Regions from separate parts of the Homo sapiens genome. Here regions 1 and 3 are each linked to region 2. Evidence: fine-mapped expression QTL. A gene starts in region 2. Each other region holds a variant in brackets. All regions are shown on one strand. Distances are from middle to middle.

Region 1 (8,268 bases), 190 kb after region 2:
CAAAGCCTTTAAGTCATACTACAGCATTCTTAAACATAAGAGAACTCATACCAGGGGAATGTCTTACGAAGGTGACGAATGTCGCGGTCTTTAAATGCTCCTCAATCCTTTCTAATCATAAGATAATTCATAATGAAGAGAAACTCTAAAATGTGAAAAATGTGAGAAGGCTTTTAATCACACCTCAATCTGTTGTAGACATAAGAGTAATTATATTGATGAGAAGCCAAATTAAAATTAAAAATGTGGCAAAGACTTCCAATTCTAGTCAGTTCTTAATGTAATTCCTACTGAAGAAAACACCTGGAAATACAAAAAATGTGGCAAAACTTGTAACCAATGCTTAGCATTTTTGCACATGATAGTATTTATATGTGAGACTACTTGTACAAACATAAAAATATACAAAAGCTATTGTCTACTTGAAATTTATAGTTAATAAAAGCATTATAAATGTAATTTCTGTTGAAAGACCTTTTAGAAAATATAGGCCATTAAAGTGAAGAATAGTCTTAAGACAGAGAATACAAAGATAAAGAGGGCTCTAGTACCTGTACTTGTATCCCAGAACTTACTATATGCATTTTGTACTAGAGGAAAACTCTGAAGCAGTTGCTTAAACTTTGTTCAACATCAGAGAATTTATATTGGAGAGAAATCCTACAAATGTAATAAATGTGGAAAAACCTCTGTTCAGAAACTGCAGGTTAAGAAACCAGAGGCCAGGCGCGGTGGCTCACGCCTGTAATCCCAACACTTTGGGAGGCCAAGGAGGGTGGATCACCTGAGGTCGGGAGTTCAAGGACAGCCTGACCAATATGGAGAAACCTCGTCTGTACTAAAAATACAAAAATTAGCAGGACATGGTGGTGCATGGCTGTAATCCCAGCTACTCAGGAGGCTGAGACAGGAGAATGGCTTGAACCCAGGAGGTGGAGGTTGCGGTGAGCTGAGATCGTGCCATTGCACTCCAGCCTGGGTAACAAGAGTGAAACTCTGTCTCAAAACAAGATAAAAAGAAAAGAAACACCAGAGAATTTTTACTAGAATATAATTTGTAGGTGCAGTAAATGTGAAGAAATATTTAGGCTAAAATTAAGACTATGTAAACATCAGAGGATTTACAGTAGAAAGAACTAAGGAACTAACACTTCAGACTTTAAAATAAATCAGAGTATTAAGTATAACAAAAGTTGAACCTGTTAGAAAATTTCCTTGTATATAAGTTGAAAAGTAGGTTTTTGAAGAGATATATTCGAAATATATTTTTTCACTTGAAAAAAGTAAAAATTTTTTTCAAAAGCAAATAATTCAACTCTAAAATTATACTATTTCAACATTCTCATTTATGTGAAAGCATGTGATAAATTGTTGCTGCGTCAGAGATATGAGAAACTCCTTTGCATTAGGTGGGCATTATTCATAGACTTCTACATGAAAGAGAAGAGAAATAAAAGATGCACCAGGAAAATCTGAGCAGAGAGGCTTTTAGTGGTTGACTTACTGAGTGATGCCTGAAGTAGGTGTTCAGAGTAATACTTTGCGTTATACTGAGAGAGAATCTGAATTTTAGTAGTAAATTGTTTTGCCAACTGTATATTTATGTAATAAGTGCAATAAAATGCAGTAAATTTTAAAATTCTCTTAAGATAATGTGTGAACTTAATTTTTGAAATAAAAATTGTTATTGTGTTAAAATTTTTGTGCCGTGAATGAAGTGTTTTATTATGCCACCAACTTTCACCTATCCAACCTTACTCAAGGGTGTACGTTAAAGATGGTAACAATGTACTATCTGGTAATATAATTGAATGACATCTCTAGTCTTTTTTAGTGGCTTTCAACAGCAAATAAATTGAAGAATATTGTTTGCATGTTACATTTTTATTCTTATTGAAATTTTTCAAAAGGTTTTGTGAGTACATAGTATGTGTATATATTTATGGTATATATGGGTTATTTTGATACAGGCATACAGTATGTAATAATCACACCACAGTAAATGAGTTATTATCACCTCAAGCATTTATCCTTTGTATTACACACAATCCAGTTACACACTTTAATTATTTTTAACTACAGGTCATTTTATGTTTGTAATAAACATTCATACATTCCTGAGTCTTGAATACTTTTAAAAAATGTTTCATATATATCTTTGAACATGTGGCATGTCCTCCTGCAAACACATACAGACATTTAATTTACTTGGAGTTAAATATATAAATTTTGTGCTCTAAAGATAAACGTTGGGCACAAGGAAATTATGGAGCAAGTAATTGTGTTTGCATGAGAGTTTATACCTATTTTCCAAAGAAAATAGCAATATTGGAACAAAGAAGGTTCTATTAATACTGTGGATAGGTAATTTACTAGAAATCTAAAACATTTTGAAATCAAATCTATATTTTCTTCTTTTCATTTAATTACTGTACAATCTAATGAATCATCGTTGAGAATCTCCCCATGCCAATCAATTCTGGTTTTATGTGGTCCTCATGCTCTAGCTATAAATTTCTCATTTTTTTTGTTTCCACTTCATAAAGTATGTGAGCTTGTCAGAAATTATAAGAATCATTTTTATAAAATTTAGTGCACCAAAAATACTTTTTAGATGTAATTTCACAATGTGTGTATTTATGTTTTATTTAATTAGAACATTTCATTTTATTGGACAACCTTATATAAGCTGTTTTCTTTAGTTATTGTTCTTTTCACTTTTTATAACTAAATAAGTTTGTTCAGGCAAGTACTGGGAAGACATAAGTATTGGGGATGTTTTGATAAATAATTGTAGTGAACAAACACAAAGTGCTGGGTGTGTAATAGATGCTCCATAACTAGCCATAAATATTCCTGGAGTTAGTTCGTAGCTCCAAGTAAAAGATTAAAAATATCTATGTTGAAGAAATGTCATTAATTGTGCATGTGGAGAGGACGTGTTCCCAGGCTGCAAAACTGACTCAGTCTGAATTTAAAGAGGATTTCTGTTTTTATTTTCTAATTATCTTTAGTTTTGTGATGTCTTCTTTTCCTTTGTGTTTTGGCTACAGTTTCCTCGCTGATCTCTTCATGCCGTGTAATTTCACATGGACTTTCAAGGTTCAGATGAGAAGTTTAGAATTTTTAATGTGGTATATTATTGTTTTTAACTGGGTTGTTTGAGATTATTTATAATTTATCAATACAACATTCAGATGACTTGAGAGTAATTCACTGTTCACAGGTAAGAGGATTAAGTCAGCATTGCTTCTCTGTATTGGTAAAGGAAAAATTGTATGAGATTCTAACAAAAAGTGTGTTAAACATAAGTTAGAATAGGTAAAACATTAATATAAGTGGGTTGCATATTGTAAGCACCATATGAAGAAACTCATCAGAATTTTGATATCTCTTAAGATAAAATATATCTTAGAAAAAAAATTTTTTTTTTTTTTTAGACAGAATCTTTCTCTGTTGCCAAGGCTAACCTGCAGTGGCACGATCTCAGCTCACTGCAACCTCTGCCTCCTGGGTTCACGTCATTCCCTTGCCTAAGCCTCCCGAGTAGCTGGGACTACAGGCGCCCACTCCCACGCCTGGCTAATTTTTTGTATTTTTAGTAGAGATGGGGTTTCACCATGTTAGCCAGGATGGTCTCGATCTCCTGACCTCATGATCCGCCTGCCTCT[G/A]CCTCCCAAAGTGCTGGGATTACAGGCGGGAGCCACCACACCCGGCCCTCTTGAAATTTTTAAGAGACTTAATGGTAGGTGAAGGATTTTACATATCATTTTCTATGACATAGCAAAACTATTTTTTTAAGCTGAATCTTTTGAGTGTAAATGTTAAGTGTTGGAAAAATAGAATGATCTGTGTAGATTCAAGATTCAAAATCTGCAGTGATCTTTTCTGTTGAGATTCATGTTACAATCTTGAGGAAATTTGTTATGATTTTTTTGTTTTAGTGGATGCAGTTCATGAGGTACGGTTTTCATTTTTAGTCACTTTATCCAAGTCCTTCGTCACCTTCTCTGGAAAATCAGATTATGGCAGCTATTGAATTCAAACGTTCATTAATTAATGTAATTCAGCATATACATAATAATATATACCAAATACTAACCATAATCCTGTATATCTGTTAATTTTCACAGAAACTCAATGCATAGACATTATTATTATCCTTATTTTACAGAGGAAGGAACAGAGCCACAGAGAAAAATGACTTGCTCACAACAGAAGAGCCAGTAGTAAAACACAGGCAAGTTTGACTCTAGAGATAAGTCTTAACTACTACGGTAAACAACCTCTTCAAACAGAAAATACATGATTATCTTCAACACCCATTTTTTTTTTTGAGACGGAGTCTCGCTCTGTCGTCCAGGCCGGAGTGCAGTGGCGTGATCTCAGCTCACTGCAAGCTCCACCTCGCGAGTTCACGCCATTCTCCTGTCTCAGCCTCCCGAGTAGCTGGGACTACAGGTGCCCGCCACTGCGCCCGGCTAATTTTTTTGTGTTTTTAGTAGAGATGCGGTTTCACTGTGTTAGCCAGGATGGTCTCGATCTCCTGACCTCATGATCCGCCCACCTCGACCTCCCAAAGTGCTGGGATTATAGGCATGAGCCACCGTGCCCGGCCTCAACACCCATCCTTAATAAAAAATTAACAAACATTGGGCTGGGCGCGGTGGCTCACGCCTGTAATCTCAGCACTTTGGGAGGCAAAGGTCTCGAACTCGAGACCGTCCTGGCTAACATGGTGAAACGCCGTCTCTACTAAAAATACAAAAAATTAGCCAGGCGTGGTGACAGCACCTGTAGTCCCAGCTACTTGGGAGGCTGAGGCAGGAGAATGGCGTGAACCCAGGAGGTGGAGCTTGCAGTGAGCCAAGATCACGCTGCTGCACTCCAGCCTGGGCAACACAGCGAGACTCCGTCTCAAAAAAAAAAATTATAATTTCATTTATGTGAGATATTTTTAGTAGTCAGCTCATAAAAACAAAGTACAATGGTGTTTGTCAAGAGGTGGGGGAGAGTGAAAATGTTACCAGGAAGTGCAAAGTCCTTAGTTCTTGTTTTCTTGAGAGAAACAATTCAGCCCAGACACAAAGAACACACCAAAAGAGGAGTAGGTTGGCCCAGCTGGAAACAGTCTTGAGAGTTACATGTTGCAGTTTTTATTATCATAGACTTAAAAAAAATTTCCCACCTCTGTCTTAAGTGTCTGCCTTTGTTTAGTATCCTGCTTCCTGGTAAATCTCTTCTTTTATCCTCATCGAGTTTCTGCCCAGGTCTGTGAGATGCTTCCTTACTGTCAGCTGATATACATGTGTGAGTTCCAGTGATCAATGAATCTTAATGGCAGCACTGCTTATTACCGCCATCTTAGGAAAATAATATAGCAGTCAAATGTGTACTTACTATGCCTACGTATCTCTTAGGAATTTTCCTTTAGCCCTTTTTCCCTTTTTATCAGCATGTAGCTAGCTACATTCTGACAGTTTAATCACAGTATGAGCAATTACTGGGTGTCCTAAGTGGTGTTTCAGGGTGTTCTTCATAGGTATTTCTGCTCCTCTCTGCTCAAATTTAGCATACATGTTTTGGGTTGTCTTTGGAGCATGAGGCTTTTTCCTCTGGGGCTCTTTTTTTCTGTTCATGTCTAACTGCCTACTCGAACATTCCCTCAATAGATTGTGACTCTAAAAATCTTTGAGACAGTGCACTGTGGGTCTTCTGTAACTACTTCCTGGTGACATAAGATAACTCATCAGCATCTCATTATCTTGCTCTTTGTCAGAAAAACATTCCCTCCATGTTTTCCCAGGTTTGACTTGCAGTATCCAGAGGAAATGTGGAGAAACACAGTTGTACAGAAGGGAAGAAAATAGGTTGATACTCCTGTTGCAGGACCATTTGAAGTCTGAGAGTTTCCAGGTGAGAGGAAACAAACCTGGTTACTTGATTTAGTGAGTAAAGCTCACAAAAGAGAAAAAGGAAGACAAAAGCTAGGGATCCCCCAAAAAGGGATGTGATGAGAATTTGAACCAGTTGGCACCCCAGGAGAACTAGCCCTTAGTGGCATGTTTCTGATGGTGACAGGCTTGGTTTATAAAATCTCTAACATGGTCCTGGACTTTCCCTAATCTGTTAACCCAGAAACAGCATTTTTCTCCTAGCATAAGGCAAATGCTTTTGTGAGCTGCAGCTAGTGTGGCAAGACCTCTACAATTTTGAACTACAGCCACGAGATAATCAACTTGTTGCTGTCACTCTGTAAGAGTCTGAGCAGTGGTTTCTGTTTTTTGAGTCAGTTCTAGAGACAGGTTGTGGTAAGTTGAGAAGGCAATAATTATGCCAGCTATTCCTGTAGTGGCACTTGTGATGCCAAGCTCATTGAGGAAAAAAATAAAAAAGATAAACTGCACAGTTGATCTGGTTTGAGGTAGTAAAGGGTAACAGCAAAGAATCATCACCCAGGACAATGCAAATTTTAGGGGTGAAGGAAGCCAGAGTGCATGTCCTCGTCAAGTTTCCAGAGAGGCAGAGATAAGCCTGCATTTCACACAGGAAGTAAAGTTCTGTAGTCAATAAAAATGGATGCAGAAGGTGAGGTCAGTTCCAAACATTGACCAGGGTCCTTGTTGGCTATCCGATATGTGAGATTCTGCCACTAAAGTTGCTGCTGCCAGGGGAGCCAGACATGGGTCCTATGTGTTTTTTTGTTTCATTTTATCATGGGGATGTCTCTAGTAGTATCAAGGAGAAGGGTTTTCTGAAACAAAGACTTGAAACCTTTTGCATAATTTATACTGGCTTGGTTGACACCATGGGTTGGGTTGACTGCCAGAGGTGTGACCGACGCAGAATTCAGTGGCATCATTTTGGATGAATGCTCCAGGTGCTAAAACATTTGGGGGAGAATAGAAAATCTCATTTGATGTTGAGAATATTTAGTGAAACAAAATTTTGAGAAATATCAATAATGGTGCTCGTTGTGTTGCATTGTGCTGGGTCTAAAGCATCCACGATGGTTCTGGAGTTTACAGTAGCACAGATGCATAGGAGTACCTGGCCAATGAGGGTAGCAGGGGAGAACAAGGGGCTTGAAACAATGGGGGTGGGTTTAAGAAAATCTTAAAAGGCTGCTTTAGGTTTTGTCAAAAAGATTATACTAGCAGAGGGAAGGTTTTGTGTAGAGAGGTCCCGATGGTAGGTGAAGCTAAGTTGGGCTTGAGTAGATGTCCATTCTTGTATTGTGGCCAAGTAGGCCATTCCCACCCAGGATGAAGAGGAATTCATGACTAGCTAACAGGTTGAGGCATAGGAAGAATTGGTAGAGTTTAGTAGTTGTGGAGTTGCCTGCAAAGTGCTTAAAAAAAAGGTTGTGGGCAGTTAGGGCATATGAGGGTGACTTTAGTCAGAAGTATGAGTAATGACCATAGAACATTAGGCTGCATGGCTCCAAGGGAAGTAGAATAGGGCCAAATTGAGATGCTTGATTAAGAAGAGAGACTGTTAACCCAATGAATATTAGAGAGATCACTACTCAGATTATGGCTTTGATGTTTAAATGTAGGAGGGACATAGCAAACTCTTCCCTGGAGAGGGTGTTGGTTTACAGTAACAAAGGCATATTAGTAAATCTGCAGAGTATTATGACTTCTAATATAAACATGAAAATATTACATCGCTGATGGACTAAAGCAGTCAAAAGTAAAATAACTAGGTTAAAAAATTAATATTAGATAAAGCAAGCTCTTAATGGAACACCTGGTGGTGTGCAAGTTAGGGTTAAGGTAAGAATCAACAGTACCACTGCAAATAAGATTGCCAATATTGGGATTACCCTACTTTGAGATAAAATGAGGAAGAGCATTACTTAGCTTCTCATTTAGAGAAAAATTTGTAAGTCCTCCTGTGGGTCACAGGAGTAGGTAAGTGTTGGTTCAATCTTTCTTTGGTTCCTTAACGTGTTTCCAGTTGTATTCAAAAATAATGTGTCCAGCTAGAGATGCCAGGAAACTTGATAGCTATTGGGGTGAGAAGTATGATAGTAAAATTGTTCTTCTGTAATGTGGTTAGTTGAGATCCAGGAGATCCACCTCTCCAGATTTTAATGAGGACTTGTTACCCTGCCTGGTTATAAGGGTTGTTGGAGTGGGGGTCAAACTCAGAATTGTTTGTCCAAACTCCTGGATGGCCTCTTGAAATTGAGTCAGCGATTTTATGTACCGGGTTAATTTGGTAACCTCTGGGTATAATACTAGGTTTGCATGTAGAAAGGGT
Region 2 (8,230 bases):
CGTGTGTCTGTCGGTGAAGATTAACACGTGGCCCCTGCTGGCCCCCCGTCTCTCCTCTCTGGTGCCCTCTGGGTTCTGTGTCCCCTGTAGTGATGCCTGGCCGGGGGGTCCTTGCCTGCTGGTCTCTTCCTCTCCACTGTCCAGTCTGGGCTTCCCTACTTCCCCAGAGGCTCCTGGTCAGACATGCCAGGAGCCTTGTCTGGGAGCAGGTGGCAGCTGTGGACTCTCAGGCTCCTGGGAACCCCCTGCATTTGCTCTGCCTCTAGCAGGCCTGGGGGCTGTGTGTGCTCACATAGCCGAGCAGCTGGGCCTCGCTCTGGGGCCTTCACACCCACTGTGGCTTCTCCAAAGCACCTCCAACTGCCCAAGCCCCACACCTCCTCTGCCGTCTGTGCTCAGCATGGCTGACGGCCGGTCCTGCCACCCTCCTCCCTCTATCTCCGGATTCCCACCCAGCCCGTGTTCTCAACGCCCCTGCTCTGTCCAGCCTTGTAGAGACCACCATAGGACTGAGTCGAAGGGTCTTGACTGCTGGCGACGTGCAGGACCCCGTGATGAGGTGTTTTGGGGCAGGGGGCAGGGGACCCACCAGGGTCCCGGGACGGGCCTTTGGGATGGGTTCCCATGACGGTCCCAGGGAGAGGAGCTGGAAGGTGGTGGAGGCTGAGGCTGCATGCACAGCACTGCGGGGTCCGTGGCTGTTCGGCTGGGGCTGGGCTCAGAAACCGCTGCACAGTCAGAGCTGGGGTGTGAGTCCTGCCCCGCCACTTGGTGGCCGTGGCCGAGCCCCACCAGCCCACCAGGATCGTCCATCCCAGCTGCCCTCGCTGTGAACTCTTGCAGGTCTGAGGAGCCACAAAGGGGTGATGGGGGGGCTGGTGGCTTCCCCCTCATCAGGTGTGGGCGGCGTCCCTGCCCGGGGTGCACAGCGGGGGATGGGGAAGGCCATGCCACCTCACAGGCCCACTCGCTCCTCCCTCTCTGCACCCGACCTGTGCTTCCTTCCTGCCAAGAGGCTTGTCTAGGAGCCATGAACACTGGGTAGCTGGGCAGGGCCTCTCACCCGGCTGGCCCATTGGCTTCTGACATGTTGGGAGGGATGGAGGGGGGCCTGGTGTCCGCCTTCTGGGACCTGTGGTTCCTGAGCCCAAGGTTTTAGGGTTCACAATCCATGCCCAGGCCTGGGCCAGGCTCCAGGAAGGTTGTGCTCAGTCCTGAGTCCCGGCAGGGCCCCCCTTGTGCAGGCCCTGGGATTCGCTGTGTCTCCCCAAGGGGCTGCCGTGACACACAACATGTGTAGTCGTGGGGTTCTGGGAGCAGACAGGGACTTGGAGCCATCAGCTGAAGCCCTGCACCTCCCAGAAGCTGGTCCCACGTGGCCTGGCACCGCCTGGGCTCCCTGTAGGCCCGAGAGTGTGAGCCCTGGGCAGCCCCTCCCTCCATGGTGGCTCCTGGGACAGACCCCTGGGGACAGGAGGGCCCACAGGCCAGGCTACTGCAGCCTTCACCCTGGGCTGGCACCCTCAGCTCCAGGAGGATGGACGCTTGCAGCTCAGGGAGGAGCGGGTTACCCGGGGCCTGCCTGCCCTGCAGACTCAGGGCCCGCTGTGCTCAGGAGCAGGCTGGTTTAGCCGCTGCAGCACCCTTGAGAGGCAGACATTAGTTCCCCAATGTAAACAGGGAGACAAGGCTCAGGAGGGCGAGACTCCGGGTGGCCCGGGCAGGAGGGTGAGACTCCGGGTGGCCCGGGTGTTGCGTGCTGGCCACCCACGCCCCGTCTGAGGGACTCTTCCACCACAGCCACGAGCTGCTCTCCTGAACTGGCCGGTGCGGCTCACGCCCTCCAAAGAGGGTGCAGTGGGCCAGACTGAGGTGTGCTCTGCCTCAGTCCCCCCTTCTGTAAACTGAGACATGAACCCAGAAGCCACTTGGCAGTGCTTAGGGTGCTGAGATGCACTTCATGAGGCTTTGCACTTCATGAGGATTTGCACTTCATGAAGATTTGCTTTTTTTGGTGGCAATTCAGACTCAAGTTTCTGTTCCCTTAGTCTGAGATAACTAAGACTCCACAGAATGGAGGGACAGACACCATGCCCAGCCCCTTGGAATGGCACCAGCTACACTGGGCAGGGGAGAGGCCTCGGAGGTCAGTCCTGGGGCAGGTGCGGCCATGGCACTGGGGGTGGGGGTGGCAGGACCTAGAACAGCCCTGGGGAACAGGCCAGGCCGAGGGACGGACCTAGGACAGCCCAGCAGTTTGAGGGGGACCCGCAGAGCAGGGAAGAGACACCATCAGCCGGGTGGGGACAAAGGGGTGAAGGGGTGGTGGCAGCGGGGGACAAACTCCTGGGGGCAAGAAAGACACAGCCCAGATTTGGGACAGGGTGGGGATGAGAAGTTGTCTTGGGGATTGTGTGCAGGAGGAAGGAAGGGAGACGGGGAGGATGGCAGAAAAGGAGGGAGGAGGGTGGCAGGAGAGTGAGGGGAGGAGGGAGGAGGGAACGGGGGGAGGGAGGAGCAGCTGGTGTCCACCCCAGGCCCCACTGCTGTGAAGTTTCCTGGCTTCCTGGTAACTCATGCTCCTGATGCACGATTGATTTGTGGGTGCCCCACTTCTTAGGAGGGAGGTGGAGATGAAGGTAACCCGGGGATTACTGAATCTAGGTCACTGCCTTGCTGCTTGCTTACTGCCATTGGGATAAGAGGATTGCCACTTCCGGCCTGGTGCGGTGGCTCACGCCTGTTATCCCAGCACTTTGGAAATCTGAGGCAGGTTGATCACCTGAGGTCAGGAGTTCGAGAACAGCCTGACCAACATGACGAAACTCTGTCTCTATTAAAAATACAAAAATTAGCCGGGTGTGGTGGCGGGCACCTCTAGTCCTAGCTACTCAGGAGGCCAAGGCAGGAGAATCGCTTGAACGTGGGAGACGGAGGTTGCAGTGAGCTGACATCATGCCACTGTACTCCAGCCTGGTGACAGAGCAAGACTCTGTCTCAAAAAAAAAAAAAACCCACAAACGAAAACAAACCAGGATTGCCACTCCCCAGCTGCCTGGGAAGGAGGGACCACACCTGCCCCTGGGCTGGCAGCCTGGTGGGTAATTCCCAAGGCTCATCCAGCAAGAGCGGAGGCTGCCTGGGCCTCTTGCAGCCTCCTTAGCTGTGGGGACAGAAAAGGGGAGAGGAAGCTGGGACGGGTGCAGGACAGGGAGAAGGGGCTTCCCCCCTCCCCTTCTTCCTCAGAGCCCCCTTGCCGGGCAGCTCCTCAGGGCCTTTCCAGGTCTCTGCTGGCCGCTGCCCTCACCCAGTCTGGCAGGCACCTCACACCCCTCTTGTTCTCCAGTCCCGCCAGGACCGCCTCTGTCCTCGGGAAGCGTCTGCCCTAGCCCAGGCTTTGCATGAACAGGCCCTGCCCTTCCCTCCTTCAGTGACTCCAGTGAGCCTGTCTCGATTCTGTCTCTTGTCCCTCCCCAGTCCCACCCTGGACCCCTGTGCTCAGTGGCTACCAGGTTTGTTCTCCCCTGGCGGCTGGCGTGGGCTCCCATGGGATAAAGCTGCTTCTGCCACAGTGGAAGTTTGGGGTTCCCCTGGCTCTCCCTCCCTGTGGGCGTCTGCACCACCTTCGACTGTGACCTCTTCTTCCCAAATCCCAAGGCAGGGCCTCCCTCCCAGCCCAGAGAGCCCTGAAGCCCCCATCTGGTCAGTCTTCCTGGAAGCCAGGGGTCCTCACAGGGACTACATGGTCCCCACCATGGGATGTGGATGCAGAATCAGGGGCACCCCGGTTTGAGCCTGAGTCTGCTTCAGCCGAGGCTCCTAGACTCAGGTCTAACCAACTCAGTGGCCATGCGATGTCAGCTTGAGCCAGAAGCCGAGTCGGAGAGGCAGGCGGCCAGGGCACAGTGCCGGGAGGGGGCTCTAGGTACTTGCTCCTCAGCACAGAACTAGCCTGTGCCCTGACAAGAGGCCTCCCTGGAGGCCTGAGGATCCGAGCTGACCCTTAGACACCTGGGACAGGTGCAAGAGATGCACACAGCCGCCTCCCTGAGGCTCCGCACAGACCCACCTCGGCCACGTCCTCGACGTTCACCATCTTTTTGGTCTGAGCCACGTGGCCCACGACCCCGATGTCCAGTGGGAAGACGATCTCGGAGTCGGGGGGCACCAGGCAGTCCTCCAGGACGCTGTCCGGCTGCACGCTGAAAAGCCTGGTGGCCAGCTCGGCCACGCCGTTGCGCTGGCGGTACATGAAGAGGCTGCAGCGGTCGGCCTGCAGGAGGGTGCAGAGGCGCCGCAGGACCTTGAAGACCACGCGCTCCATGTTGATGCTCTCCTGCATATCCTGCACCAGCTCCAGCAGCGCCGTGCTCTCCTCCACCTGGCAGAGGTCCCGGAGGCTGTCGCAGTCCGGCGGGCACCCGTCCTCGCAGGCCGCGGCCACATTCTCAGGGCTCAGTTTCTTCCCAAAGTACTGGCGGGCAAAATCGGGGTTCTGGTCCAGAAAGCTCCGGGCCTGCTCCTCACTGAGGCTCATGGTGGCTGCCTGTCCCTGGAGACGCTGCTGCTCCAGGCACGCATGGACTCCCAGGAAACCCTGTCATCAGCAAAGTCTTTCTTAGTGAGATTAGGAACCCCGGGGGCGGGTCAGCTGACTCACTCCTACAAATGGGGGCCTGCGCTCCCTCTCCTCAGACCCTGGGACTTCCCACCTTCCAGGAAAACCAGACCCTGTGGAATGAAGGCTGGGAGTAACTGTTGGGGGATCTCCTGCCTGTTGCAGGCGTCACGGGTGGCTGGGCACAGGCATTTGGCTTCTAGCGGACCAGGCCCTGAGAACTAATCCCCTGAGGAGGTTATCCCACACACAGCATGACGCTTTCTGCTGGTGGAGCTGCCTGAGGGTTTGGGTTGGTCCCACAGGTGGCCCCAGGCCCTCCTGGGAGCCCAGACCTGGGCTCGGGTGTGCTGGGGAGGTGGTGGGGCACTGGCCCTGCCTCCAGGAGATGCAGTTCACCCCTGTGCAGGGAGAGGGGGCTGGGTAATCACACCAGGACCCAAATGCCCAGAGGCCAGCAAGGGGACCCTGGATGTGGAGGTGGGACCACATCCACCTTCCCCCACACTCTGAGGGATGCAGAGTTGCTAGTCAGCCTTTACCTGCTGTCAGGCCCCGGCTGGGACAAGCTTCGGGGTGACGCCGCTCTGAGGCCACATGGCTTTCAGTGGAAAAAGGACCTGAATGTTGGGGGGCTGCCTGGCAACAAAGCCCGACCTCTCCTCTCCGCTGTCACCTCAGCAAGCCTTGCCTGCTCCCATAGGCCTCTCGGCTCCTGGGCCAGCTCCCTGCAGGCCAGCAGGGGTGATGTGGCCAGAAGCACCTTGGCTGGGTCTGGCATGGGCGCCGGCCTGGCGGGCGGGTGGCAGTGTTCCTGATTTCCCTGAATATAAAAACGCTGATTGTCGCTTTCCAGGCACCTTTGTGCTGCCAGATCCTGGGCTTAAGGTTTCTTCCCATCTTTTCCAGTTTATCTGTCCATGTTGTCACCATACTTTTAACCAGGATGCAAGGTTTTCATGTGGTTCTTTTACTGCACTCAGCTGGTAGACGTGTGTGCACGCGTGCATGAGTGTGCACATACGTGTGTGCACGGAGTGTGAGTGTGCGCACGTGTAGGTGTGTGTGTTCGTGTGAGCACGTGTGCATGACAGCCAGGTGCCCTCAGGAGCGCAGAGTTCTCTCAGCACGAGGCCAGGCCCCGGGGAAGCTTCTGCGAGGGCCCTGGGCTGCACCGCTGCAGCTGCCTGTCTCGGAGGCTGCTCTGAGGCAGCATCTGCGCCGTCCACAGTGGGCCCAGCTGGGTGTGCGACGTGTGCCCTTGTGCCATGATGTTCCTGCCTCCACTTAGTCACAAAGTCACTTCCTTTCAAGGATCTGCTGAGAGGCTTCCCCTTTTTCCTAAAAATAGTGAATTCTCACTGGGGACGGGGGAGTGGGGATGTGGGTGGGGGGAGGGGTTGTGGGGCCGCTGCAGTGCTTGGGTTTGGGGCCGGGGGGAGGGTCGCCTGCTTTGCATTCAGTCCCAGAACAGCCTCCAGAGCCTGCCGGTTGCATTTCCCAACTCCCAGGGATGAGCTCACATTGCGCCTGGATGTGAGGATGGCGGCCGGAAACCAGCCTTCAGGTCCTCGGTTGCCCCACCCTGAGGTCTATGCACACGCAGCCCCTCCCCACCTCCTTTTTCCTCTCCGGGCTCTTTCCCGTCCCCCAGTTCCTCACAACCCCCTTCTGGACACCCCCACTTTGCCCCTTGCTCCCCTCCGTCAGCGAGGGGCCTGCCAACCTCCCTCCCACAGGGGCCTCCGTGCCCGCAGAACTGAGACACTCACCTGCGTGTGAAATGAGCTAAGCGCATCTTGAGTGGGACCGCAGAGCTGGAGAGGCCTTGCTGGGGGCATGAGGGCCCTGGGGTGGGGCTGGGGGTGGCAGCTGACCTCAGGCTCTGCCTTGCCACCTGCCCAAGGGAGCGTGGAGTGGCTGGGCTCAGTGTGGAGAGCAGGTGGGACAGGGAAGGGGTGCTGGGCTGAGGATTTGTGGTGCTAGCGGGAGTGAGGGTTGGCTGGGAGGGCTCAGTGTGGAGAGTGGGTGGGACGGGGAAGGGGTGCTGGACTGAAGATTTGGGGCGCTAGCGGGAGTGAGGGTTGGCTGGGAGGAGCCCACAGTCTGCGGCCATAGTCCACTCACCCTAACACGACTGTGACAGCAGCTTCCACCCGCAGCACCGCGTTCCTCACCTGTGGCTTTGTCCTGCCCCAGGAGCCCGTCGTGATTGTAGGTGAGTAGGTTCAGGGCGGCAAGGAGTCCACAGCCTCTGGGGAACCCTGAGCCATGACCATGGGAGTTGTGTGTGAACACCGCAGCTCCCTTACCTGCAGGGGCCCAGAGGTAACTGCTCCATGGCACACTATTGGTTCTATCTTTTCCCCATCTCACTTCCCTACATACCTACTGATGATGCTGGGGGACCCTGATTGGGTTGGACTTGACACAGTCAAAAAGACACACCTGTGAGGCACACCTGTGAGACACACCTGTGAGACACAGCTGTGAGACGCACCTGTAAGGCTTACCTGTGAGATGCACCTGTGACATGCACCTGTGAGATGCACCTGTGAGACACACCTGTGAGACACACCTGTGAGACGCACCTGTGAGACGCACCTGTGAGGCTCACCTGTGACATGCACCTGAGACACACCTGTGAGACGCACCTGTGAGACACACGTGAGACGCACCTGTGAGACACACATGTGAGACGCACCTGTGACATGCACCTGTGAGACACACCTGTGACATGCACCTGAGACGCACCTGTGAGAAACACGTGAGATGCACCTGTGAGACACACATGTGAGACGCACCTGTGACATGCACCTGTGAGACACACCTGTGACATGCACCTGTGAGATGCACCTGTGAGACACACGTGAGACGCACCTGAGACGCACCTGTGAGACACACGTGAGACACACGTGAGACGCACCTATGAGGCACACCTGTGAGACATAGCTGTGAGACGCACCTGTGAGATGCACCTGTGAGATGCACATGTGAGATGCACCTGTGAGGTGCACCTGTGAGACGCACCTGTGAGAAGCACCTGTGAGATGCAAGGACTCACTGGGCGGCTTCTCCACAGATGCACCTGGCGAGTGTCTGAGGAGATATGGGAGTGCTCTGTCCCTTGGCTCCTACTAACTTTGCCTCATCATAATGTAGAATTTAAAATTAGCAAGCACTTCCTGGCAGTCACTTAGAACAAGGTGTTTGTCATCAAATAGCTTTTACATGAAGAGAATCCTAGTTTCTTGTACTAAACTGTGGAAAAGATGCAATTGTACAAGGAACAATTGGCCCTGATGTTGAAATGGACCGGTCATGAGGAATGGCAAGAGGTGAAAGTGGAGAGAAGATTCGAGCTCAGAATCAGAAATCTCATGAAATTTGCAAGCAGAGAAACAGTCAGCTCCGTGGGGAGCTGGTGCTCTTCCAGACCATTTCCCTGGAATGAGGACAAGGAAGGGTGAGGAGGTGGGGCTCCTCCTGAGCTGGTGTGGGAATTCCACCCAGGACAGGACAGGGGTCTTTGTGGGTGGGGGCGGCCGCGGCCCTCGGCCTGGGCTCTGTCCTCTGCCCATGCTCAGCTGCTGTCTGACCACAGGCGAGGCT
Region 3 (8,000 bases), 40 kb before region 2:
GTGACCTCTACCAACCCCTGCAGGAGGAAGGACAGCACCTGGGTCTGTGACCAGCCCAAGCCGATTAGCTGGGCTGAGCCTTTCTTAGTGCTTTAGCCTCTGTTGACACTGTGCCCTGATTATGCTCATCCTGGCCTTCCATAGTCCTGAAGTCGCCTTGTTTATGTAGCATAGGATAGCGGGAATAGCATGGGGTAGGGGGATAGCATGGGGTAGGGGAATAGCATGGGGTAGCGGGAATAGCATGGGGTAGCGGGAATAGCATGGGGTAGCGGGAATAGCATGGGGTAGCGGGAATAGCATGGCGTAGCGGGAATAGCATGGGGTAGGGGAATAGCATGGGGTAGCGGGAATAGCATGGGGTAGCGGGAATAGCATGGGGTAGCGGGAATAGCATGGGGTAGTGGGAATAGCATGGCGTAGCGGGAATAGCATGGGGTAGCGGGAATAGCATGGGGTAGTGGGAATAGCATGGGGTAGCGGGAATAGCATGGCGTAGTGGGAATAGCATGGGGTAGTGGGAATAGCATGGGGTAGGGGAATAGCATGGGGTAGCGGGAATAGCATGGGGTAGGGGGATAGCATGGGGTAGGGGAATAGCATGGGGTAGTGGGAATAGCATGGGGTAGGGGAATAGCATGGGGTAGCGGGAATAGCATGGGGTAGTGGGACTAGCATGGGGTAGTGGCAGCAGCATGGAGTAGTGGGAATAGCATGGGGTAGTGGGAGCAGCATAGGGTAGGGGAATAGCATGGGGTAGCGGGAATAGCATGGCATAGCGGGAATAGCATGGGGTAGGGGAATAGCGTGGGGTAGTGGGAGCAGCATGGGGTAGGGGAATAGCGTGGGGTAGTGGGAGCAGCATGGGGTAGGGGAATAGCGTGGGGTAGTGGGAGCAGCATGGGGTAGGGGAATAGCATGGGGTAGCGGGAATAGCATGGCATAGCGGGAATAGCATGGGGTAGGGGAATAGCGTGGGGTAGTGGGAGCAGCATGGGGTAGGGGAATAGCGTGGGGTAGTGGGAGCAGCATGGGGTAGGGGAATAGCGTGGGGTAGTGGGAGCAGCATGGGGTAGGGGAATAGCATGGGGTAGCGGGAATAGCATGGCATAGCGGGAATAGCATGGGGTAGGGGAATAGCGTGGGGTAGTGGGAGCAGCATGGGGTAGGGGAATAGCGTGGGGTAGTGGGAGCAGCATGGGGTAGGGGAATAGCATGGGGTAGGGGAATAGCATGGCATAGCAGGAATAGCATGGGGTAGGGGAATAGCATGGCATAGCGGGAATAGCATGGGGTAGGGGAATAGCGTGGGGTAGTGGGAGCAGCATGGGGTAGCGGGAATAGCATGGGGTAGGGGAATAGCATGGGGTAGCGGGAATAGCATGGGGTAGTGGTACTAGCATGGGGTAGGGGAATAGCATGGGGTAGCGGGAATAGCATGGGGTAGTGGTACTAGCATGGGGTAGGGGAATAGCATGGGGTAGTGGGAGCAGCATGGGGTAGTGGGAGCAGCATGGGGTAGTGGGAGCAGCATGGGGTAGCGGGAATAGCATGGGATACTGGGAGCAGCGGGAATAGCAAGCCAAACCTCAGAGCTAAGGTAGCCAAGTGCGGGCCAATGGCAAGACCACGATGCCTTTGGGATTTGAACTTGGGGGTGTGCTGACTTGTTGCAACTAAGTCCTTTATAAAGGACATAAGATATGGTTACTTCTTTCTTGAAAAATGGGGTTCACTGGCTAGGAACAGAGGAAATTTTTCAGTCCGGGTTTGCTACCGAGGTGGAGTCAGCTGCCACTCTCCCCCGCCGTGGCCTCTCTCCCTGCACTGTGGCCCTGTCCACCTCGAGGCTTCTTGAAAGTGGCTCTGCTTTTCTCCATTTTAACTCTGCTCTGTGCCCTGTCTTTTCATTTTGCCTTGGGAGAGTCACCGAGTCCCTGCCCCACAGGCCACACAGAGCCAGACCTTTCTTGGCTGCCACCCTCTCCTCCTCCTCCTTCTCCTCCAGAGCCTTCACTTTGGCCTCATACTCATCAGCCAGCGCCTTCCACTCTTTCCTATTGTTCTGCAGTCGGTCGAACATGGGCAGGATCTCTTCGTGGAAACGAGAGAACTCCTGAGGGGAGTCGAGAAGTCACCACCAGTCCTGTCCTGCCTGCTCTCTCCAGAGTAAGATAGCCCTTCCCCAGCTCATCCCCCTCGTAGGGGATGAACTGCCTGGCAGGAGGAGGGAGCGCCACGGAGGGGGCACCTTCCCAGCAGAGCCCTGTGAAGGGAGAAACCTCGGGGGCTGTGTTGGTGACATTGAAGCCGGGAGCTTTAGGGTATGCATGCTTAGGGTGCAGTGTTGCAGGGAGAGGAACCCAAGAATGAGCAGAACAGCTCAGGGGGTGGGGGCAGGGTGCCAGGCAGAGGGGTGGTGGGCACAGGCGGACAGCAGGCAGCCCCTGCAGTGCCTTCTCCCGTCCCTCCCACACACACACGGCACACATCATGCAAGCACAGCACACGCGTGCACTCGCGCACATCACACATGGAGTGTGGCGGGGTGGGGAAGGCAGTGGGGGGCACCTGCAGTGGGGCCGTGACCTGTGGCCACTTCAGGCCCAAATATCCACCCTTGTCCCACCTTCTCCCCAGCACTGACGACCCGGGGTGGGTAGGATGGGGCGGGGAGTGGGCACAGCCCACTCCGGGACAACTTCATGTGGAACCCGTGGCATCCTCCTTGGGGCGTGGATTCCATCACCAGGGAGTGTGGCCGGAGGCAGCTGGCTCTTATGGGCATCACACAGGGCCCCACGGTCAGACCCCTGCCCCATCGAGTCTCCCCCTCCATGTCCGCCTTGCGTCCTCAGAGACTCAGCTGGCATCGGACTGTGGCAGATTGGCAGGGATGTGGCTCCTTCTGCTGTTCCAAACGCCCCTGTGGGCGGGTGCACCAGCAGACAGGCCGACCCAGCCCCGCCTCGAGGGTTCACAAACATGGAACAAATGAACCCACAGAGCTGCAGCCAAGGCCCCCAAAACAGTGTGCTGGCCA[C/T]GGCGGAGGGCACTGAGGGAGAACTTCTGGGGTAGGCCTGGAGGCTAGCAGAGGACATTCTGGGCTGGGAAAGGGCTCAGAGCTTCCAGGGGCACAGCAGGGTGAGGATGGGCTGGGGCACCTGTGGGGGTCCGGAAACTGATGTTCCTCCCCATTTGCCCCACTCAAGAGCGGCACGAAGCTGGCACTGGCATCCCTACTCCAGTGAGGACACCGCCGGGCCCGTGTGAGTCCACGCGACTCCAGCCCGCGCCCCCTTGCCTGCTCCCAGCCACCCTGCCCCAGTCAGCTCGGAACACCCGTGAACCACTCGCCTTGTACACGAATGTGCACACGAAGTCGATGAAGCCCACTTGCAGCTTGGGGAGCTCGGCCGCCTTGTTCCGGTCCATCATAGGCTGGTGGGAGGAACAGAGGGCGGGAGAACAGTGACCAGGGAGGCAGCTCCTGGGGCCCCGCCCAGCCCCCCGACCCCCTCACTCAGATGTGCTCATGGAGACACAGCCTGGGACGAGCCTGCCTGACAGAAACTGGCTCTCGGGAGGGGAAGCTGACACCCTCTCCCTTGGCCAGCGGCTCCACAGCTCCTAGGAACTGTGGGCAGCTTCTTCCCACAGCTGCTGTTGGCTCCAGCCCGTGGTCCCCTGAGGGCAGCCCCCTCTTGGCTCTGGGGACCCTTACTGCAGCTGGGGAGAGGCGGGGAGGGGGATGGGCTGTACACAGTGCTGAGCCGGGCTGGGCTGCACTGCCCAGACACTCGGCTGACCAGGACCTCGCTGTGCACTCGCCTGGGGCAGACACAGACGTGCTCTGGAGCTGTTTCTAGTGTCAGACCCCGAGTGCCCTGGGCTGTCCGTCCCCTCACAGCGTCCTGGTGGAGGGTGAACCATGCAGGACTCTAGAGGCCGGGCGCGGGGGATGGACCTGCTGCCTGTCCTTCCCCTGTGGGGCTTTGCTGACCAACCAATGCCCCCTTTCCTGCCGAGGCTGCACCTGGCCTAAGCCCTCTCCACTGCAGGCTCCAGAGAGCCCCTCGCCGCCCACCAGAGCGGGTGTGTGAGAAACCACAGCTCCCACCTGGTCCACGTGGGGCTGGGGCAGCCCTGCCTCTCCTGTTCCTGGCGCCTATCCTGACTCTCCCATTTGCTGGCACCTCTCCTGCTGCCAGGAGGTATCCAGACCCCGCTGCTGACCTGAGGACCCTGGCATTGTCCATCATACCACTGTGTGGGCCCGGGACGCCCCCCATGCGTTCTCTGCCCCAGCACCCTCCCCAGGGCTTTCTTGGTGCATGGCTCGCGGCCCTGCTGGGGTTCACCTGCAGAGCTGCCTGGACCCAGAGGCTCCTGGTGATGAGCGGGTGGCCCTGGTTCCTCCAGTGCCAACGACGTCACCTCTGCATAAGCATCACCCAAGCCACAGCTGTACCCAGGTCCGAGCCACCCACACGCATGTCACATGATCCCACAAAGTGAGATAAGGACCCCACGACCTCAGAACCCCCTGCCTGAGACCAAGCCAGGACCTGAGGCTCCTGAGGACCAAGAGGGGTCTCTAACACCCGTTTCAGGAGTGGAAGGTTCCAGAAGCAGCACTCACAATGGGCTGCTGATCCAAGACTGTCCTTTCCAAGTCACCTTGCTCCCAGAACTCAGCAGCCACGAGAAGTGCGACCTGGAGGCACAGGAAGGCAGCTGTCTGTGGAGCTCTGAGCCCACGCGGAAGGGCCCGGGCCCGCCCCGTGAGGCTCCGAGCCTCGGTCTTCTCCGCCCCAGACCCCCGGGGTCCCCACCACACAGGGCTCCGGTTGAGCCATGTAGACACACTGCAGTACCCCCATCCTTGCCGCCCTGGCCTGGCCCCGAGGTGGCCCTCAGAGCTCCTTGCAAACAATGGTCCGTTGCCATCCGAGGCTCCCGCCCGCCCGGCAGTCCCATGTGCTGAGAGGCACTGACTCTGGGTCTGGAGGGCCCTCTGTTCTAACCTTGCTCTGGACTTCCCAGGGCTTGGTGATGGCAGACAGGTCGCAGGCTGTCATCATCATGGCCCTGCAGACACAAACCGGGCACGAGTGCTGATGGGCGTCTCCTGAGGGCAGGTGGTTTATATGTGTTTTCTTTTTTGAGATGGAGTCTTGCTCTGTTGCCCAGGCTGGAGTGCAATGGCGCAATCTCAGCTCACTGCAACCTCCGCCTCCCGATTCTTGTGCCTCAGCCTCCCGAGTAGCTGGGATTACAGGCGCCCGCCACCACGCCCGGCTAATTTTTGTATTTTCGGTAGAGACGGGGTTTCACCATGTTGGCCAGGCTGATCTCGAACTCCTGACCTCAGGTGATCCACTCCCCTCGGCCTCCCAAGTGCTGGGTTTATGTGTATTTTCTCACTGGGTCCCTGGGACCAGCCTGGGGAGGGGCTGGTTGTGAATCACCATTTTACAGGTGAAAAAGTGGAAGGTCAAAATGAAGTAAGTTACTGCCAAGGGCTACAGACCAATGCAGGGCCTGTGTGCTCCCCAGCTCTGCACCATCTCCCTGAGAGCTGGGGGGAAATAAGGACGGCGCATTTGTTTCACAGCCCTCGACAAGCTGCCGCGACGGGCTCTTCCTGCTCCAGAGCGTCTGGGGAGGGCTGCAGGGTTAACCAGCTGGTGAGTGGGCCCGGTCCCTGCGAGGGAAGGACCCCTCGTGCCCCCTCCGCCCGCGCTCACATGACGATCTCCTTCCGGGTCGTCTCCAGGGACAGGTACTCCACCCAGCTCTTCTTGTCCTGGTAGTTCTTGGACTCATCCACGATCTTCTGAAACATCGCTCTCTTCCTGAACCCAGGGAACAAGGGAGGTGCAGGTGGGAGCAAGTGTGGAGACCCCGCCCCAAGCGCCCGTCTGCAGGGAGGCGCGGAGCCCGAGCGAGGCCCCATCCGGGGTGCGCGGGGCCGGCGGGCAGGGACGGAATCCGGGGCTGCGTCCCCCGGGCTGTGCCGCCGCTGCGCCCCCGTGTCTGCCGGGGGTCCCAGGCTACCCGCCCGCCCCGCGAGGCGCCCCCTCCCGGAAGGCGCGCACTTGAAGTACAGGGCCAGGTCCGTGGCGATGATGGCGATGTCCATCAGGTGGATCACGTGCTCGTGCTGCCGCCGGTTCAGGTTCTGGTAGATGTTCAGGGTCTGCGGAGGTTATGCCCAGCGCGTCAGGCGCCCTGCGGCCACCTCTCAGGGTGCCCGGGGACCCCGCCCCTTCCGCCTCGGCTGCCTGTGCCTCTCACGCCCCCGCCCTCGGGCCCTCGGTGGGCGGGACCCCTAATCCGCCTGCTGCTCAGGGCCCTCCTCAGGGTGCCCAGCTCTCCACCAGCGGCTCCATCGTCGGCTTGGGACGCAGATGGCCTCAGAGGTCACCACCGGGGAGCGCAGGGAGGGGTCCACTGAGTGTCCAGGTCCTTGGGGGCCGCTCAGGGCTCGGCTGCCCTTCATTCCCCCGCTGGTGGGTCCCGGGCCGCTTCCCCTTCGGCTTCCACCCCACCCCATGAGGGGCCCTTTCCAGTTGTCTTCCCCACAAGCGTTTTCCCAGGGCCTCCGATGCACCTGCCCTCAGCCTCGGCCCTCCGCCTTCTCTGCCGCCCTCCCCCAGTGCTCACACACCCAGTGCTCACCCGCTGCATCAGAACCCTGCTCCGCAGGATACGGCCCTGCCGTCCTGCGGACGCTGCGTCCCCAGCGCCCACAGCAGAAACCGAGGGTGAGTATACCAACCTCCTCCGAGAGCAGGAACTTCCCAAACTCCAGGTGGTGCCGCTCCAAAATCGAGGAGCCGTGGAGCTTAGCCAAGGGGTTCTGGGACCTGTTACACAGGTGGTGGAGGTGAGGCCCGTGGGACCTGCCCTTGGCCCACCCTGCGCTCTGCAGCCCCCCCAGATGGGCCCCACTTTCTTTTTTTTGAGACAGGGTCTGCCTCTGTCACCCACTCTGGAGTGCAGTGGTGCAATCATGGCTCAATACAGCCTTGACCTCCTGGGCTCAAGTGATCCTCCCACCTCAGCCTCCTAAGTAGCTGGGACCACAGGTGTGCGCCACCATACACAGCTTTTTTTTTTTTTTTTTTTTTTAAGTTTTTGTAGAGGAGAGCTCTTGCCATGTTGCCCAGGCTGGTCTCGAACTCCTGGGCTCAAGCAATCCCCTCGCCTTGGCCTCCCACAGTGCTGGAGTACGGGGCCTGGCCGTGGACTCCACTTTCTACATAGCCTGCTATGCGAAGCCTAATTCACGCCAAGGGCGTGGAGTTGATTTAGGGCTAATTCACATGCCCGCCCTGAGGTGCCTACTTCATCTGGTACAGGTTGTTGGTGCCGCGGTGGTCGATGTCATGGCACAGGCCGGCTGTCACCATGGCGAAGGCCTCCAGGTCCGTGTAGTAGCTCTTCAGTTTGCCGGTCTGTAGAGACAGGGCCACCTTGCTCACCGGTCCTGGCTCCAGCAGGGTGGGGAGTGGTGAGGGGTTGGGATGACCTAGGCGTCGGGTTGGAGGTTGGACCTCCGACCACCGCAGGGCTGGGGTGCGCGGTGCACGGTGTCAGAGGGCGTTGCCCTCCTCCATCCTTCTGCCCTGGGAGGACCCCCATCTCATCCCTCGGGGTGCTTGAGTGCTGCCCTTGGTACCAGGAGGGCCTGCACAACCCTGGTGATTCTGGCAGCCACGTACCATGAGCAGCGTGAACATCGTCTGGGCCACGTTGAAGCCGTGGCGCCAGTTGTGGTAGGTGATTCTCCGGTACCCTTTGCTGATGGAGAACAGGAACCGCACCAGGACCTGGGGGAGCCGAGAGGACACAGGGCTCCGGCGGCAAGCGTGTAAGTCCCGCCAGAGCGGCACCTGTGGCTGACTTCACAGTGGAAGCCCTGCTCCGTGCCATCATCCCCACACCGTCTCCTGGACTTCCCGATCTTCCCCATCCCTGCGTTTCCCACTGGC

Which allele goes with the higher level. Alleles are on the strand shown, and positions count from the first base shown. SD is a standard deviation of normalised expression in the study named. Not every link is listed here.
As copies of A replace G in region 1, the expression in hippocampus of the gene that starts at base 4,591 in region 2 goes down (large effect, 0.85 SD a copy in GTEx).

The links. PIP is the estimated chance that this variant, and not a neighbour inherited with it, causes the effect.
Region 1: its variant is fine-mapped to the expression of PDE6B in hippocampus (GTEx, PIP above 0.99).
Region 3: its variant is fine-mapped to the expression of PDE6B in whole blood (INTERVAL, PIP above 0.99).

Annotation. Positions count from the first base shown.
Region 1 is chr4:433,418-441,685 of GRCh38, reverse strand. ZNF721 (zinc finger protein 721) reads left to right here. Exons shown (of 3, transcript NM_133474.4): 3 at 1-1,698. It also overlaps the pseudogene ABCA11P and the pseudogene LOC100533734. Among named protein-coding and RNA genes, the nearest start is that of ZNF721, 62 kb to the left of the region's middle. The variant G/A (reference allele first, on the strand shown) is at 3,672.
Region 2 is chr4:621,934-630,163 of GRCh38, reverse strand. It overlaps PDE6B (phosphodiesterase 6B), which reads right to left and starts at 4,591. Exons shown (of 22, transcript NM_000283.4): 1 at 4,070-4,591. The coding sequence starts at 4,537. RefSeq lists enhancers at 2,937-3,925, 3,926-4,915, 5,905-6,895.
Region 3 is chr4:661,972-669,971 of GRCh38, reverse strand. PDE6B (phosphodiesterase 6B) reads right to left here. Exons shown (of 22, transcript NM_000283.4): 13 at 7,731-7,838; 14 at 7,354-7,463; 15 at 6,785-6,872; 16 at 6,102-6,202; 17 at 5,751-5,858; 18 at 5,028-5,091; 19 at 4,643-4,717; 20 at 3,358-3,441; 21 at 1,966-2,116. Among named protein-coding and RNA genes, the nearest start is that of ATP5ME, 8.3 kb to the left of the region's middle. RefSeq lists a silencer at 5,943-6,412 and an enhancer at 6,007-6,599. The variant C/T (reference allele first, on the strand shown) is at 3,044.